2 separate regions of the Homo sapiens genome follow, and region 2 is linked to region 1. The links come from fine-mapping of genetic effects on gene expression. A gene starts in region 1. The other region holds a variant in brackets. All regions are shown on one strand. Distances are from middle to middle.

The links.
Region 2: its variant is fine-mapped to the expression of PDE4D in monocytes (TOPMed, PIP 0.92).

Annotation. Positions count from the first base shown.
Region 1 is chr5:59,890,588-59,898,587 of GRCh38, reverse strand. It overlaps PDE4D (phosphodiesterase 4D), which reads left to right and starts at 4,862. Exons shown (of 15, transcript NM_001104631.2): 1 at 4,862-5,420. The coding sequence starts at 4,966.
Region 2 is chr5:60,242,183-60,253,907 of GRCh38, reverse strand. It overlaps a transcript of PDE4D not described here. Among named protein-coding and RNA genes, the nearest start is that of PART1, 240 kb to the left of the region's middle. The variant A/G (reference allele first, on the strand shown) is at 5,082.

The sequences.
Region 1 (8,000 bases):
CATGGTCACACATATGTATTCACACATACTGAAAATAGCTAATTTCAATGTGTACTTGAGGTCTTGGCCTCAGATTAGATGCCACTCTCCCTTTGGTGAGGACTCACTGAGCTGTAAGGGTTGAATGTTCTTCCAGCAGACACTACATATCCGCATCAGTATATCTCTTCCCCCCATCTTCCCAAATTATAGTTGCTTATTTATTTATTTCCTCTGCAAGACACAAAACTCCTTGAGGATAGTAATTTTTTGTGCATGTTTGTCAATGCAGTATCACAGTCGTCCTGAGAATTAGCACACAGTAGATAAGCAATATTTTTACCTTGAGCTGACAAGTGGAATGGTATCATTAGAAAGTTACAAAATTGATTTTGTGATACTGAGCCTCCAACTAGTTGGAAATTAGTGTGCTGCTAAATTTGCATTAGTGTGCTAGTCAAAGACAAGGATATTCAAGTACAGCATTTCTTAGTTTCATATTAATTGCATATTTCTGTTTATTTCATATTAGACAAAAATTACTGAAAAGCAGCCTAATATACTGCGTTGGAAACAATATGATAGAGACTTTAATACTAGTACTTGTACTGGCAATACTGACAATATTATCTTGTATATGTATAGGTTTTTACAAATTTAAAAGCCTTTCATATATCTCAAGGAAATATCCTAAGAACCTGTTTCTACTCAACATTAAAGACCTAAGTGAAATCTGAGACTTTCAATGCCTTTGGATATGTAATTAGACAGGAGTTTAGCCTTTTGTAACACATATGATGATGAAAATTTCCGATTTTAAGCTGACTGTTGGGCATCAAGATGACCATCTTTACAAATGAAGTAGCACTCATGTGCTCAAGTATACATAGAATGTATGCAAAGTGAAAGTCTCCTTTAAATCTTCCTCCCATTGACTTGAGCAACGAGAACACGTGGACACAGGGAGGGGAACATTACACACTGGGGCCTGTCGGGGGGTGGGATGCTGGAGGAGGGATAGCATTAGGAGAAATACCTAATGTAAATGACAAGTTAATGGGTGCAGCAAACCAACATGGTACATGTATACCTATGTAACAAACCTGCACATTGAGCACATGGACCCCATAACTTAAAGTATAATAAAAAAAGTAAAAAAAAAAATCCTCCTCCCATTGCCAAGATAGAAATGGACCCTTAGTTACTGCCACTTGCCATCTCACTCTGTGTTCTGGATAGAAATGGTGCTTGCTCTCTGCTAGCTGTTAATTGACATCACTTCTGCCAGAACTCTCCATCATTATTGACAAGAATGTTCTCCCTTGTTAATTGCCCAGCAGCACATTGAGTGATTGATTGTATCTTTTGGACAGATTTGAAATGCATTTGCAGAAAAGGGTGGGGGTGGTAATGACATAATGCATGGTAATGACACCAACTAACTGCTTATTTAAGTTTGTTCAGGAAAAAGATACTGATCATTTACCTGATTTTTACTTTTTATATAGATGTGCTAATGGTAAGTAGTGATAGCTTTCCAGGATGTCCCACATTAACCCAATGCTTCACAAAAATCTCTCTCAGACTGTGCCCATAAAACTCCAAAATCTATGGTCAACTAGTGGGAAAAAGAATGGATAATTTATTTAACATATAAGCAGGGAAAACCAATGGGTAGATGGAATATTTTACATTTTTGTTGTTTTAATTAAAAGTAGGAAATACCTAGATTAATGAGAAGAGTTTTTAAATGGAAGGCTGGGAGTGCTCAATATTCAGCAGTATAAGATTTTCTTTTAGCATAGAGGCAACTAGAGTAATACATAAAGTGCATATTTTCATGAGAACTTTGCTTATAAGCTGGACTTCCCTAGAAGTATTTGAGACACAAGGGCGAGTCAACTAATAGTATCTACAGTGTTTTTGCAACCATTTAATGAGAGAGTAAGTCTGGATCAGTAGTTGCTGATGTATGAAATCACATGAAGAGTTTTTTAAAATGCCGATGCCTTGATCCTCCCCTAGAAATACTGATTTTATTTGTCTAGGCAGGGTAGTGATGATCAAACTTTACACTGAAGCAGCATCTTCTCACAAATTTGGTAAAAGTATAAAGCCTCAAGCCCTATCCTGCTTCATGGAGCCTGGGTCTTTGTGTGCTGGATTAGCTCTCCTGGTGATTCTGATAACATCAAAGTTTGGAATCACTGCTCTAGGTTCAACATCAGACATTTTTTTTCAAGCTCCCCCAGGTGATATTCCCTAGGTACAGCCAAGACTGGGAACTGCTGATTAACATGATATTTAGGATACTTCCCAGCCTGGCAGGAATAATAAAAATTGCTACCTTTATTAAACATTCATTGCATATAAGGCATTGTGCTAAGTATTATTTCATTAAATAATTGCAAAATTCTGTGAAGTAGGTAATATTAGTACTACTTTGCATATGGGAGACAGGGATGGTAAATAATTTAGCTAAAGTAACATGGGTAGGAAGTGGTAGATTGGAACTCAAGCTGTAACCTCAAAGATCACACAAGAAACTATTACTATCAATAACATTTTGGAATTATAAGTTAAATTAAAAACTCTACAAGTTGGAAACATATTAAATGATTTTCTTACATTTTAAAATGTTCCTGACTTGCAATTACATAGTAAAAACAAAACAAAGAATTTTTAAAAATCAGTGGGAAATATATAAAAGATAAAGTTTTCATGAGTAAAAAGGAAGGAGCAAATTGGTGGTGAAAATCAGGTTGGATTTGAATTATTCCAATTTAATCTGGAAAAAAATTATAAGTCACTTGTACTGTTAGTGTATGAGAAATTAGAATAAGAGTTTCGGATAGAGGTATTTTGCCACAGTTATATTGAGGCGAAAGGTGGCAAGCATTTCAGGGGAAAGAAGAAATTTGTGTACTTCTTTAAAATGGTTTTGGATGTTAATAATGCAATGAATTAAAAGAAAAAGGCAGTCTATACTGCAGAACACTTCCATTTCTCTCCTTTTGTGTTTGGGAAAATACTGGCTTAGTGCCCTCCTAGGCATGGTAAATACTTTGACCACTGCCACCAGTCACACTTGTGTCTGCAAAAGGGGCAAAAAGAGTGCCTTTGTAAAGTATGGTTTAATCCTACACAGTGGAGAGTGGTGCTTAGGAGATTGCCTTGTTTCTCTTAAGACACAACCTTTCTCAGATTTTGTGTATAGTCCACATATGAGCAGAGGGCTCATATTAAACTGATGGAGGAAAGGTATATTTCCAACCATAAATAAATAAATAGCATGAAGAGATGATGAAGGCCTTCTCCTGCCACTTGCACATTTCGTGGACTGTTCTTGCTGATAAACAAAGTGAGCACTTATTTTCATTGGCATTATTTTCCCAGTGGCATCTAGACTGTGTGGAGAGTGTTGAATTTTCAGCAGTCTAGAGAGTTTGAGACATGGTTCCTGATTCTGGTACTCTAGCATCCATTACATGATATGCTTGAAATGTACATATGAAAATATGTTAAGACTGAGTGTGTGGGAAGAATAGAATAATTACACAGCCAACAAGTTGTTGTGAGTCCTAAATATATTATCGTTCAAATAATGGATGGTACGTGGTAACTTCCACAAAGAAAAATTCTAGAATTATTTTAACAGTAAGCAAATTGCATTTCATCTTTAAGTAATATGGTCAAATAAAAAAGGTACAGGGAAAAAAGTGTCTATATATTGCCCTGAAATCCTCTTGGCTTCTTTAAAAAACATTTGACACTGCAGGAAAATGCTAATTAAAGGAAGACAAAAGTTGAATTTGGATTCTAGTGCCTCATAGGACTCTAATTTCTGTGAATATTGATACAACATGTTTTTAAAACACTTTAGTAATAGAGCTGTGTTCTGCTGGAAGTGGCAGAAAGGCAAATTGCAGGCAGGCACTGAAGATAGAGACTACCGAAGATAATCAGAGGTTTGTAATTGAAAAGGTGCCTTAACCTTAACTCTGGCCAGCGGGCTCAGCCATGGCTCTGCAACTAAGGACGACTCGCCTTGATTTCCAGCGAGGACCACTCCCGAGGCCAAGTTGGAGGAAGATCTTCAAGAGGAAACATTGGGCATTCTCCCTGCTGTGGGAAAGAGCCACACAATGTTTTATCCTATGTCAGGGAAAGAGACTGAATTAATCTTACTATTGGATCTTCACCCAGATCCAATTTTTCAGCGACGCGCATAGACAATATTCCAGGCAACTTTGCCTGGTCACATTCCTTATCTTTGGAAGCACCAGCATGGGGCTCATCGTCAACAAGCTCTGAGAACCAGCCAGGAATCGCCAAACTCCATTTCTCTAAGAGCACTGAGGCAAGCGGAGGTGAAGAGGAAGGCTCCGGGGCAGTGGGGAGCAGTGTGGAGGAGGGAGGCGCGGGCACGGCGAGGGGAAGGATCAAGAGGACAGGTCTGACTCCTGACTGGCTGGAGTGGTTTTGGTGAAAGTCACAGCTCGGGCGTGCCAGCCTGGAGCTGTCCAACTTTTCAGCAGCTCCGGGATCAGGGTTCCGGTGCCCTGGAGGCGGCTACCACTGCCGCCGCCGCCGTTGCTGCTGCTTCTGCAGCCCGAGTTGCTGACAATCCCTGCTCTCGCCGCCGGCGCCCAAAGGAAGGGAAGAAGAAAGGGAGGAAGAAGGACCAACCTCTGGCGAAACCGGGCACCGCGCACCCTAGTCTTGGTGACTTGGGGAGCCCGGGAGCGTGTCTCTGCCATAGCCTCGGTGGAAGGAGCCCTGCCGCGTTCTGTGACCCCTCCCGCTGGCAGGGCCCCCTCTCGGTAGCCCTGAGGCTCTGGCGCCTTCAAGTGAGAAGCTAAGCACCAGCCTCTGCTGGGCTGCAGAAGCGGCGGCGGCGGCAGCAGCAGCAGCAGCATCAGGAAGGCGCTCGGGCCAGCGCGGTGAACCCGGGCTGGGCAGCAGGTCGCGGAGCCGCGAGCCAGGATGGAGGCAGAGGGCAGCAGCGCGCCGGCCCGGGCGGGCAGCGGAGAGGGCAGCGACAGCGCCGGCGGGGCCACGCTCAAAGCCCCCAAGCATCTCTGGAGGCACGAGCAGCACCACCAGTACCCGCTCCGGCAGCCCCAGTTCCGCCTCCTGCATCCCCATCACCACCTGCCCCCGCCGCCGCCACCCTCGCCCCAGCCCCAGCCCCAGTGTCCGCTACAGCCGCCGCCGCCGCCCCCCCTGCCGCCGCCCCCGCCGCCGCCCGGGGCTGCCCGCGGCCGCTACGCCTCGAGCGGGGCCACCGGCCGCGTCCGGCATCGCGGCTACTCGGACACCGAGCGCTACCTGTACTGTCGCGCCATGGACCGCACCTCCTACGCGGTGGAGACCGGCCACCGGCCCGGCCTGAAGAAATCCAGGATGTCCTGGCCCTCCTCGTTCCAGGGACTCAGGCGGTGAGTGGAGAGCGCCCCCTCCCCCATTCAGGCAAAGGGTCACCTCCCCTTTTCTCAAATACTCCATCTAAGTCGGCTTATCACCACCAATTCTAGACCCAGGGTAAAATGCTAGTCTGGAAATTGGGGGAGGACAAACAGGGGTGTGCCTATCCTTTATTGAGAGTATGCTATTCAGGTGTGTGTAAGAGACCCCCCAAAAGTACTGCATAAATGTTAACTGGGGCCGTGTGTGTGTGTGTGTGTGTGTGTGTGTGTGTGTGTGTGTGTGGTGCGCGCGCTTCCCAGTTATCTGTGCCACGCACCAGCCCTCTCCCCACCCACTTCCATACCACCCTGGCTAGTGAGACTAAACAGGCAAAATCAGTTTGCTCTGGGTGGAGAAGAAGAGAAGGTGAAGGTTTTGCGGGATTTGACCAGCGAAAGCACCCAGCATCTGTCCACTCACCCTATTGGGAAGAGGGTCGGTGGGGCTGCTCTGACTGGGGAGGAGGGGGGAGTGAGAAAGCCTGGTCCCAGGATTGCAGCTAAAAGCCTAAGAACAACTCGCATTTCTCTTCGTCAGGTGGAGAAGTAAATTGAATAGCAAAAGGGGAGAACACGTGGGTGACTTGGAGAGTTTGGAGCAAAATGTTCAGCAATCCTTGAGAGAGACAAGGGGGTGAGGGAGGGAGAAGGAGCGAGGACGCTGTGGGAGTTACACTGTGTCGGTGTGTGCGAGCTTGTGTGTAGGGAGACCGTGTGTGTATCAGTCGTCCCTGCAAAATCCCAGGAAGAAAGCGCCTTGTTTTAGCAGCAGGCAAGACGTAGAGATTTGATTATAGTGATTTCCCCTTAACGTAAGTGCTCCGGAAGACAGGGCAGGGAAGCCGCCTATCAACCGGGAGTTTTAGTAGAAGTTGACCGCTGCTTCTCCAAGGAAATGAGTAAAGGACCAATTACAGCCATTCTGAGGAGTCAGCTCCAGATTCTTAACTCAGGCGTGGAGGTGGATGTGGGGCCCACGTTTGGTCCCTTTCCTGATAACCCAGGGACAGCTCCTTTCTTCCCTGTCCCAGGCCTTCCACGCCGTGAATCCCCTCCCCCACACAGGCACAGGAAAAAGATTTCAGGAGCTGCTGATCCTTGGCACATCTAATAGTAAAGTAGAGGGGTCGTCATCTAACCTTAGATGTGGACAGGCATCGATGTACTGCACCTCCAAGCCACAAGTCTGAACAATGGGCAGTTATAAATTGTAAATCAGGTCTGGGTGTGGAAACAGGAAAATCTAGGGCTGGGATTGTTTGTCCAACTCTGATTGACAGTAGGTTGGACTGATCAGAAAATCATAATGGTGTTCAAATGTGTGTTTGAGTTTTGTGTGTGTGTGTGTGTGTGAGCATGTCTCTCTGTTGTATACACTATGTACAAGGGAATCCAGCCAAACTATCATAACCCTGATGTGTACACATCATTTCAGCTTGCATATATGCTCTTAGCCCTTTGCCTGGCTCACACCCTTAGGTACCTTGTTGGAGATGTTCTTGTACCTGTTGGATGGGAAGAATAAGAATTGTAATTAATAACCTCAATTCAGATCAAAGACTGCAGACTTCCATAAATTAATATAAAAGTTTCATTTTTCAGCCAAGACTGCTAAGACCCTTTGTTTGAAGAGGTGGATGTCCTTCTCTCTCCCCTTTGGTTGAGCACGACACTATGTAGGACCCCAATGATAGAATGAAGGCAAGCCTGATACTTTGTATATTTGACCTATTAATAGAAAAATACCGTGTGATGATGAGCCCTTAATAAACATTAAATAAGAACAAGAGTTCTAGCTTGATCTGTGGGCTGATTGATTTTGTAGAGTTTCTTAATTGACTTCATTTTTTAATAAAATAGAATATGCCTGAGAGAGTGGAAGAAAGAAAAATAAGCTAATTGGAATAGAGGTATTGCATCATTGATTTGAATTTATTTTTTGCTATGCTTTCTACATTGATTAATTGTTCTATTTGAAATTTTTAGTTGAATGGTTCACAGGCAAACTAAGATGTATAATATTTATATGTAGCTGCCACTGTGGCTCACCTGATATATCATTGTCATTCTATTTAAGGATCCTTAGACTTAAAATTCTTTACAATACTTGCATATTCCCCACATGCTCACACATTGCATGTCATGTTTTTCCTTAATAGAGTTGCTTTTGCAAATAAATACATCTTTAAGGAGGACATGGATATTAGTTTCATTCTTTAAAGAGAACAGCAACAATACTTTTTTATTTTAAAGAGAACAGCAACAATGCTTTTAAATTATCAAAGAAATTTTACATTTATTAACTTATTTGAATCCTACAACAACACTGAGATGAGATGGTATTATCTCTATTTGATAGACAAGAATGCTGAGCCCCAGAAGATGCGAGCAATTTGTTCAGTATCACATAGACTGTGAGTGCTAGAGCTAAGACTGAAACCCAAGTCTCCTGCCTCATCAAAGGTGGTGAGCCCACCTTAAATAAATGTGTGCAGAACCTGGGCCTGTTGACAGCATCAAGAAATACATGAAACCAACGTGAAGTTTATATCG
Region 2 (11,725 bases), 350 kb before region 1:
GGTAATTTATCATTGAATCAGGTTCCCTTTACTCTGTCCCAATATTATAGGTTAATCTGGGACATGTAGTTTCTGAAATACCGACAGTCCCATTTTGAATTATTATTTTAGAAGCTGTGAAGACATTTAGCTCCTTTTGATTTCATACTCTTGACTTTAGTACTCATTGTAGACATGAGAAGTATGTGGCATTGTGTGAGCATCTGTAAAGATTGTAAATGATATTAATTAAGTTGGCTGTGCTTTTTCTCCTCACAATGGATTCTTTTGTTAGGCTGGTAATAATCGCGTTTTTGGTAAAAACACCTCATGGAATTTTTTTCCTTTCTCATAAAATAGCTGTTTACTGTAAAATTGAGATAGCCTCTCAAGTCTGGAACACCTTTCAATTCATCAAAAAGGGACAACCTAATATTCCAAAGAAGACTCAATCCTTTTAACACACATACATTTTAGGGCCAGTCAAGAGAAGTGGCCTGTTCTGTAGGAAAACATTTCTTGGCACATTATTATTTTAAGTGATTGCAGGAGACCACAGAGGGAGAGAAAAGAGACAACAACAACTTCTAGCATGCCTGGGGGATGACTTGCTCTTTCATATTTGTGGAACCCTATGTCAAGAGAGAAAACATCTAAAAATAAAAACGCATTTACTCAGATTCTCTAGGGCAAGGTGCAAAGAGCCTGTGCTGTAGGAGCTCAGATCAAAAATTAAATGGTTGAAACCTGCAGAGCAACTGCCGTCAGCAGAACCGTGGGCTCCTTCTGGTTGATTTTGTGCCATTCAGTTAGTTTCCATAAATTGGCCTTGGGTACTGATGTTCTTTGGTCTTTTTTGTGCTGTCCATAACTAATAGTGACCGTTGCTGGTAAATTGTTTCTTCAGTCCAGTGATTATTGGCCTTTCAAAGCATTGACTTCCTCCACCAATGTATACAGTCACCAAATGGGATCTGGTTTGTTCAACATTCTAGTCAAGTTCCAAGTGGTAGGAATCAAAATTCCACTCTAGTTTATGTGTATTATTCCTATAGCTCTTCCCTCGAGATGTGGCATGGGATGGAAAATGGAGCCTATGTGTGGTATAGGCACTACTTAAAATTTATCAATAGAGAGGGATCCATGAGGAGGAGGAAACAAGCCAAAGAGATTGGGCAGGCTAATTTTCTTCTAGACAGTTCCTGCTCTCTTGGATTTTACTCCAATTCCCCACTCTTTCCATAGGAGTAAAAGTCTTAAAACTTGAACTAATGTTGAATTTTAATCCTGAATGGTGTAGCATCCTTCATTTCTATCCGTCTCATTATCAGCCCATACCCCTGCCATTGCCACTACCATATTTTCAAATGTCTTTCAACTCTCCAAAACCTACTGACCCTAGTTTATCATGCATTTGAAAGGCTCCCCACTTTTTGTAGAACTTCAGGTATTTTAAAACATATTTAGAAAGACTCTAAATAAACTGGAGTGAGTCTATAGCTAATGTTTGACCAAAAAAAAAAAAAAAAGTAAAAAAGTGTGCTGTGAAATTTTGAATATTAATTGTGCCAATTGGAATGGCATTTTTAAAAAGAAACTATTTCATCCATAAATGATAAATATATATTTCTTTGTTTAAAAAGTACATTAATGCAAAATTCTCCACCCCCATGTATTTTTAGCTTACATATCCATCTAACCTAAATACAGTCATGCATCACTTAATGAGAGGCATACAATCTGAGAAATATATCATTAGGCAATTTTGTCATTGTGCAAACATTGTAGAGTGTACTTAGATACACCTGGGTGGTATAGCTTAGTATACACCTAGGTTATATGGTATATTCTATTGCTCCTAGACTACAAACCTGTACAGCTTGCTACTGCACTGAACACTGTGGGCAATTGTAACACAATGGCAAGCATTTTTGTATCTAAGCATATGTAAACACAGAAAAAGCACAGTAAAAATACAAAATAAAAGAGGAAAAAAAGTGACCTCTGTATAGGACACTTACCATGAATGAAGCTTGCAGGAGTAGAAGCTGCTCTGAGTGAGTGAGTGGTGAATGAATATAAAGGCCCAGAACATTACTATACACTACTATAGACTTTATAAACACTGTACACTTAACGGTACACTAAATTTACAAAAATATCTTTTTTACCATTCGGCCCAGCAATCCTATTACTGAGTATATACCCAAAGGAATATAAATCATTCTATTATATCATAAAGACACAGGTAGTCATATGTTCATTGTAGCACTATTCATAATAGCAAAGATATGGAATCAACCTAAATGCCCATCGATAATAGTAGATTGGATAAATAAAAAGTGGTACATATACACCATGGAATACTATGCAGCCATACAAAAGAATGAGATCATGTCCTTTGCGGGAATATAGATGGAGCTGGAAGCCATTATCCTTAACAAACTAATGCAGAAACGGAAAACCAAATACTGCATGTTCTCACTTACAAGTGGGAGCTAAATGATGAGAACACATGGACTCATAGAGGAGAACAACAAACACTGGGGCCGACTAGAAGATGGACAGTGGGAAGGGGGAGAGGATCAGGAAAATAACCAGCAGGTACCAGGCTTAATGCCTGGTGATGAAATAATCTGTACACCAAACCCCCATGACATGAGTCTACTTATATAACAAACCTGCACATGTACCCCTAAACTTAAAAGTTAAGAAAATTTCTTTCTTCAATAAAAAATTAATAGCTAATTTTTATCTTTAACAATTTTGACTCCTGTAATAACACTACTTAAAACGTAAAGCACCATATAGCTGTACAAAAATATTTCCTTTCTCTTTCCTTTCTCTGTATCCTTATTATATAAGCTTCTTATTAAAAAATGTCTAGTTATCTCTTTTATTTTTTGAACTTTTTTCTTAACAACTAAGATACAAATACACATATTAGTCTAGGCCTACATAGAGTCAGTATCAACAATATCACTGTCTTTCACCTTCATACCCTGTCTTACTGAAGATTTTCAGGGGCAATAACATGCAAGGAGCTGCCATCGTCTCTGATGACCATGCCTTCTTATGGAATACCTCTTGATATGCCTACCTGAGGCTGTTTTACAGTTAACTATTTTTTTAATAAGTAGAAGGACCACACTCTAAAGTAATGATAAAAAGTATAGTAAACACATAAATTAGTAACCATTATTTGTTATTGTTATCATGTATTATGTAGTACACATAATTGTGTGTGCTCTAATTTATATGAATGACAGCACAGTAGGTTTTTTATGCCAACATTGCTACAAACATATAAGTACTGCTTTCCATTATGACATTACTATGCCTATGGTATATTAATAACTAGGCTATAGGAATTTTTCAGCTTCGTTATAATCTAATGGGACCACTGTAGTATGTGGTCCATTGTTGACCTAAATGTCATTATATGGCACATGATTATACTTGAAAATAATCAAAGTTATCAGATAGAGAAGGCTTAGGGATGCAGAACCATCTTTACAAGTTTTTGCTGCTTTGAGACAAATCCAACCCCGACTATTACCAGCTTAGAGACACCTCCTAGCTGCCTCTAGAGATGTATATCATCTTTGATCAGGGACTGGGGACCTAAAACAGGAACAATAGCATAGCATGCTTTTATGTGCAATGAATTTTCAAATATTAAAAAAAACCTTCAATATTGTTGTTATATTATCTGCACAGTATTAGGAAAAATGAGTAATAACTTATAAGTGAAAAAATACCTATGCTGCAAAAAACTCTTTTAATGTTGACTCCAGTTTCAGCAGAATAAATTTGTCTGATGATAGCCCCAGTGTCTACAGAAAATATACATTTTCTATTACTGGGGTTACAGTGTATGTAGAAGCACTGTGAGAAACCTTGACATTTTGGCAGAAAAGGATTTTTAACAATAAAATTCAAGAAAAGGTCATATTAGTAGAAATTTTGGTAGTCATTTTAAATGTCTCCCACATTATATGGCATCATAAATGCATTTAATATCAGATTGAATTATGGCTGTAATCTTTAGCCTTAGTAGTCTGAACATCATTTCATACCTAGCTTAATATCCTGGAATGTTATGTGTGGTTTCTGCTTTATTTAAAATAGAGGAGTGACAAGGGTGATGAATACATTTTATTTCTGTTTTCTCATCCCATTTTCTATTGCAAATGAATTTTTTTTCAGAAGTAGGTATGCCTACCTGTATCTTTGCAAAATGCATTTTCAGAAAATAGGTTTGGAATATTCATTTAAATCCTATTTCTTGTGACCCAATGTAAACTCACTGCTGTTAAATCTAAAGTGTGTGAGTTCTTACAGCTGAGCAGTAATTCTACTGACATTTTAATGTCATGTCCTCTCCTTAGCAGCCTGTTTGCATATTGCATGCAGGCTACATGTTAGGATTTTTTAAAACATGAGGTGTCTTGGAAAATGATTTTGACACAACTTGTCCTCTTGGACCAACTGTATTTTATAAACATTTTAATGCTTTACTCTTGAATGATCCATTTCACTAAGAGTCAGAAAACTGAGTTTCTGTCATGCCATGGTGACATGATGCTGACATTGCTGAGCTAGTTACTTATTCCTTTTACCTAAATGTTTAATAGAACACACCCAGCCCTGTGTGGGCATGAGAGGGAAATGGGCCCAGAAGTTGCAGTGGTTGCATTCACAAGCCATTAAGCTGTGGTCAGTTTCTCCCTAAAGCATTGTACCTCCCTTAGACAACTTCCTCTTTGGGGAGTTGCAATATCTAGAAACTTCAGAGGAAGGGGTCCAGCTGCAGGGATATGGTTAAAAGTTTTTTCAGAGGAGCCACTTTGCATGGCAGTGGGCCATTTCCTGCTATCACTCAGGCCCAGCCTACCCACAAGTTACAGTCTTTGGCAAGAAACAGAAGGAAACAGTGGTGGCTCTTGGAGCCACATGCTCAATTTTTGATGGTGCTCTTTGCGCAGTGAATGCCAGCTGCTCCTCAATCAGGTATGCTGCTGTTGTTCTGAGAGTGATTAGGAACAAAAGGGATGATGCAGATGTGTCAGGCTATGGGAAGTGCAAATGTATATTTTTGG[A/G]GCACTGAATGTAAAGAGATTTAGAAGTTTCCTGTTGGAAAGCAGGCTATCGAAGCAGGCAGGCAAAATGATTTTGACACCAATACCAACCAAGGGCAAGAAGTGGAAGCTTGGAAATATACTTGTTTGGGAATAAGAAATTGATAAGACAAATATACTTTTTAAAAAGAAAGATAAGAGAGGTCATGAAAGAATTGTGAAGGTCCAGTCTGTCCTATTTCCTTTGCTACCACCTGAGTCTGTTACCATGGTCTCACTCTTGCATGAAAGCAGTCATCTCCTACCTAAGCCCCTTCTGTTCATCTTGCTCCTTGGAGGCTGGCCTCCACATCCTTGAAAATACAAGTCTGATTTTGCCTCTCCTCTGCCCAAACCTGCCAACAGCTTCCCAACTCATGAGGAGTGAGATCAAATGTCTTGCCATGGCTGACATGGCATTCTTGGGCCTGGCCCTGACCTTCTCTGTCCTTATCTTGCACCACTCTTACTGTCACTCGCTCCCTTCAGGTCCCTCTGTTTCCTTGCTGCTCTTTTATATGCCATCCCTCCTCAGGGCCTTTCCACCTTCATTTCTGATTAGAATATTCTTCCCCCAGATATCCGTATTACACACTTTCTCACTCCATTATCATCTGTTCAAATAGCACTTAAAAAGAGAGGTTCTGTGGCCATGCTATCTAAAATAGCACACTCACATGCACCCATGACTTTCTCTCCACTTACCCTATCTTCTTCACAGCACGTAGCACCACCTGTCATATTCTATCAAGTTGAACCATATGAAATTGCTTTTGGGTGGATCAAGAACAGCTGAATATTGGCCATTTCATTTGGTTCAAACTAAAATATATTTATTAATTTGTTTATTATTTGTATTTCTTCTATACTATGATTGAAACCCTGTGGGTCAAAGGTTTTGTTTTGTTTTTGGCAACATCTCCAATGTCTAGAGCACAGCAGGAACTTAGACAAGTTGTATTGAATTAATGGAAAGGAAGAAGAAAAGCCATATAACTTGTTGACAGTAAGCAGTGAACACTTATATGAAAAATGATCTCTCTCCCTTTCTCTGTCTCTGTCTTGTGTGTGTGTGTGAGAGAGAGGGAGAGGAGAGAGAGGAAGCACTAGAGGACTCTAGAAAAAGGTGATGGGATGGGCTTCAGAGGGAATCCAGAAAATTAAAGGATTTATTTGGATCCATGTAAAGTTCAGTGTAATGTTTCTAGTTGTAGCTAGGGGCTATGTATGCACCTATAATTATTATATATTTTTTTCCATGTGGTTTTCTGAAACTGGGACCAAGTGGGATCAAACAAGCTTTGGATAATATAATTGTGAACTGAAAAAGTTTCATAATTGGTAAATTACAAGGATTCAGCTTGCCAATTGTGCTGTAAGTTGATTTTTACTAGAGAAAATAAGTTACTTTTTACTAACAGTTCTAGAAACATGGCTAATAATCTTACTATCATCCCTGCTACGGATGCTTAGAAATACTGCATGTCTAATCTTGAAAGGAAATAAAATCATTACTATGGGTCAGAAGTAAAGGTTGAATTGAAAACTCCAGGGATAAACACTTGAATTGATACTGTGGCTGCCTTTGGGACAGTATTATTAGTCTCACTAACAAAGGGCTTGAGATATGAAATGGAAAATTGAGGTTCTGTGGGTTGGAACAGAGATCTTCAGTACAAAGTTGTGACCTTGGAATGGAAAGGACTGAAAAAAAATCATCAGAACAGAAGAGACAAGGAAGCTGTGTCTTAGAAAAAGAATGTCTCCTTCAAAAACACATCTCTATGGATTTGTACCTCATTTAGGTTTGGGAATTGAATTTGTACTACTTGTGTAGTATGGAAAAATCACAACTTGAAAAATTAACTACAGAGAGCCCAGATTACTGATACTTCTAAAGCACCTGGCAGAATCTGTTACAAACTTCTTAGGAGAAAGATACCATTCAACCAAGTTTCACAAGATTCCTAAACATAAATATCTTCTAAAGATTAACTCACAACCTCAAACTATAAAACATAAGAACAAAATCCCCCACAAGTGAGAGTTAGCAAACACAAAGAGCAGGATTAGAATAAGACCTAAAAGTGATGGAACTATCACATAGACTATGAAAAATGAATATTGAAAATGATAGAGACATAAATGAATTATAAATATAAGAAAAAATAAGGTTAAAAAAAGAACACACTTTATAAAGGTGAAAACTAAAGTAATTGAAATTAATAATTTATCATAGGTTAAACAAATTAGATATAGCTGGAGAGAAAATTAGTAGACTGTAATATAATTTGAAGAAATCAACCAGAAGGCACTGAAAAGAAAATGATAGAAGATATGAAAAAGAAGTTAAGAGACATGTTGGAGAGCATAAGATTCAATATATGTTTCATAGGCCTTCTAGAAGGAGAGCACAGGAAGATTTGGGAAGAGGCAGTATCTGACTATAATGCAATTAAATTAATAATTTAAATTAAAAGACAACAAAAAGAATCCCACATGGATTTGAAATTAAATCAACACACGTCTAAACAACTCATGAGTCAAGCAAAAAAATAATGAAAATTAGAAAATATTTAAAACTGAATGTTAATATTAATTAAATTCATCCATTAAATATTGTATGAGAAGCAATGAAAGTTATAGTTAGAAAGTTATAGCTTTAAATGCCTATATAAGAAAATGAAAAAAGGTACAAATTAAAAAAAATTAACTTTTAATTTTTTTGGCTACATAGTAGATGTATATATTTATGGGGTACATGAGATATTTTGTACAGGCATGGGGTACAGGCATGCAATGTATCATAATCACATGGGGTGTAAATGGGGTGTCTGTCACCTCAAGCATTTATTTTTTGTGTTACAAACAATCCAATTATACTCTTTTAGTTATTTAAAACTGTACAATTGAATTATTTTTGACTATAGTCACCCTGTTGGGCTAGCAAACCTTAGGTCTTATTCATTCTTTCTATTTTTTTTGTACTCATTAACCATCCCCACTTCCCTCCCTCCTCCACTACCCTTACAAGCCTATGGTAACCATCCCTTTACCATCTATCTCCATGAGTTCAATTGTTTTAATTTTTAGCTCCCACAAATAAGTGAAAACATGCAAAGTTTGTCTTTCTGTGTCTGGCTTATTTAACTTAACACAATGACCTCTAGTTCCATCCACACTGTTGTAAATAACAGAATCTCATTCTTTTTAATGGTTTAATAATACTCCATTTTGTATATGTAACCCGTTTTCTTTATCCATTAATCTGCTAATGGATTGCTACCAATTCCTGGCTATTGTGACTAGTGCTACAATAAACACGGGAGTGTAGATATCTCTTTGATATACTGATTTCCTTTCTTTTGGGTATATACCTAGGAGTGGGATTGCTGGGTCATATGGTAGTGCTATTTTTAATTTTTTGAGGAACCTCCAAACTGTTCTCCACAGTGGTTGTACTAATTTACATTCCCACCAACAGCATACAAGGGTTCCATTTTCTTCACATCCTCGCCAGCATTTGTTGTTGCCTGTCTTTTGGATAAAAGCCATTTTAATGAGAGTGAGATGATATCTCATTGTAGTTTTGATATGCATTTCTCAATGATGTTGAGCACCTTTTCATATATCTGTTTTCCATTTGTATGTCTTCTTTTGAGAATTTTTTACTCAACTCTTTCACCCATTTTTAAATTAGATTATTAGATTTAATAGTGTTGTTTGTGCTCCTTATATGTTCTGGTTATTAATCCCTTATCAGATGGATAGTTTGCAAATATTTTCTCCCATTCTGTGGGTTTTCTCTTTGCTTTGTTGACTGTTTCCTTTACTGTGCAGAAGCTTTTTAACTTGATGTGATCTCATTTGTCCACTTCTGTTTTGGTTGCCTGTGCTTGTGGAGCATTACTCAAGAAATTTTTGCCCAGTCCAGTGTCCTGGAGAGTTTCCCCAATGTTTTCTTTCAGTAGTTTCATAGTTTGAGGTCTTAGATTTAAGTCTTTCATCCATTTTGGTTTTGTATATGGTGAGAGATAGGGATTGGGTTTCACTCTTTTGCATATGGATATCCAGTTTTTCCAGCACCATTTATAGAAGAAATCATCCTTTCCCTAATGTATGTTCTTGGCATTGTTGTTGAAAATGAGTTCCCTGTAGATGTACGGATTTATTTCTAGGTTCTGTATTCTATTCCACTGGTCTATGTGTCTGCCTTTATGCCAATACCATGCTGTTTTTGTTACTATAGCTCTATAGTATAATTTGGAAGTCAGGTAATGTGATTCCTCCAGTTTTGTTCCTTTTGATTAGGATAGATTTGGCTATTCTGGGCATTTTGTGATTCCATATAAATTTTAGGATTTTTTTTCTATTTCTGTAAAGAATGTCATCAGTATTTTGATAGGGAGTGCATTGAATCTGTAGATTGCTTTGGATAGTATGGACATTTTAACAATATTCATTCTTCCAGTCCATGAACATGGGATATCGTTCCATCTTTTTGTGTCCTCTTCAATTTCTTGCACCAGTGTTTTATAGTTTTCATTGTAGAAATCTTTCACTTTTTTGGTTAATTTCTAGGTATTTTATTTAATTTGTAGCTATCATAAATGGTACTACTTTCTTGATTTCTTTTTCAGATTGTTCACTCTTGGCATTTAGAAATGCTACTAATTTTTCTATATTGATTTTGTATCCTGTAAATTTACTGAATTTGCTTACCAGTTCTAATATTTTTTTGAGAGAGTCTTTAGGTTTTTCCAAATATGAGATCATATCATCTGCAAACAAGGGTAATTTGACTCCTTCCTTTCTAATTCGGATACCCTGTGTTTTTTTCTCTTGTCTTACTGATCTAGCTAGGACTTTCAGTACCATGCTGAGTAACAGTGGTAAAAATGGGCTTCCTTATCATGTTCCTGATCTTAGAGAAAAGGCTTTCAGTGTTTCTTCCTTTAGTGTGATACTAGGTATATGTCTTTTGTATATGGCTTTATTGTGTTGAGGTATGTTCCTTCTATACATAGGTTTTTGAGGATTTTTACCATAAAGGGATGTGAAATTTTATCAAATGCTTTTTCAGCATCAATTGAAATGGTTTTTGTTCTTCATTCTGTTGATATGATCTATCACATTGATTGAGTTGCACATGTTGAACTATCCTTGCTTCCCTGGGATAAACCCCACTTGGTCATGAGGAATTATATTTTTAATGTGTTGTTGAATTTGGTTTGTTAGTATTTTGTTGAGGATTTTTGTATCAATATTCATCAGTGATATTGGCCTGCAGTTTTCTTTTCTTGATGTGTCTTTGTCTGGTTTTGGTATCAGGGTAATACTGGCATCGTAGAATGAGTTTGGAAGTATTTCCTCCTCTATTTTTCAAAATAGTAACATTGTTATTAGTTCTTCTTTAAATGCCTGGTAGAATTCAGCAGTGAAGCCATCAGGTACACAGCCTTTCTTTACTGCGAGATTTCTTTATTATAGTTTTGATCTTGTTGCTTATTATTGGTCTGTTCAGGGTTTGGATTTGTTCCTGGTTCAGCCATTGTAGGTTGTATGTGTCTAGGAATTTGTTCATTTATTCCAGATTTTTTAATTTACTGGGATTTAGTTGCTCATAGTAGCCACTAACGATCCTTTGAATTTCTACAGTCTCAGTTGTAATGTCTCCCTTTTCATCTCTATTTTATTTATTTGTGTCTTCTCTCTTTTTTCTTAATCTGGCTAAAGGTTAATCTATTTTGTCTTTTCAAGAAGCAAACTTTTTAATGGATCTTTTGTATTTTCCTTGTTTCAATTTCATTTATTTCTGCTCTGAACTTTATTATTTTTTCTTCTACTAGTTTTGGGTTTGGTTTGCTCTTGCTTTCCTTTCCTAGTTCTTTAAGACACACTATTGGGTTTTTTTATTTGAAGTTTTAATTCTTTTTTGATGTGGGCACTTAAAACTATAAGTTTCCCTTTTAGTACTGCTTTTGCTGTATCCCATAGGTTTTGGTATGTTGTGTTTCCATTATCATTTGTTTCAAGAAATTTTATAATTTCCCTCTTAATTTCTTCATGACCCGTTGGTCATTCAGGAGCATATTGTTTAATTTCTATGTGTCTGTTTAGTTTCCAAAATTCCTCTTGTTTTAATTTCTAGTTTTCTTCCATTGTGGTTGGAGGAGATAGTTGATATTATTTCAAATTTTTTGAATGTTTTAAAACTTGTTTTGTGACCTAACATGTGGTCTGTCCTTGAGAATGATCCATGTGCTGAGGAAAAGAATGTGTATTCTGTGTATTCTGCAGCCATTGGATGAAATGTCCTGTAAATATCTATCGGGATCATTTGGTCTATAGTGCATATTAAGTCTGATGTTTCTTTGTTGATTTTCTATATGGGAGATCTGTCCTATGACGAAAGTGGGCTGTTGAACTCTCCAGCTGTTATTTTCCTGAGGTCTGTTTCTTTATCTCTAATAATATTTGCTTTTTATATCTGGGTGCTCCAATATTGGTTACACCTATTTATAATTGTTATACCCTCTTCCTGAATTGAACCTTTTATCATTATATAATGACCTTCTTTTTCTTTTCTTACAGTTTTTGTGTTGAAGTCTATTTTGTCTAAGTAT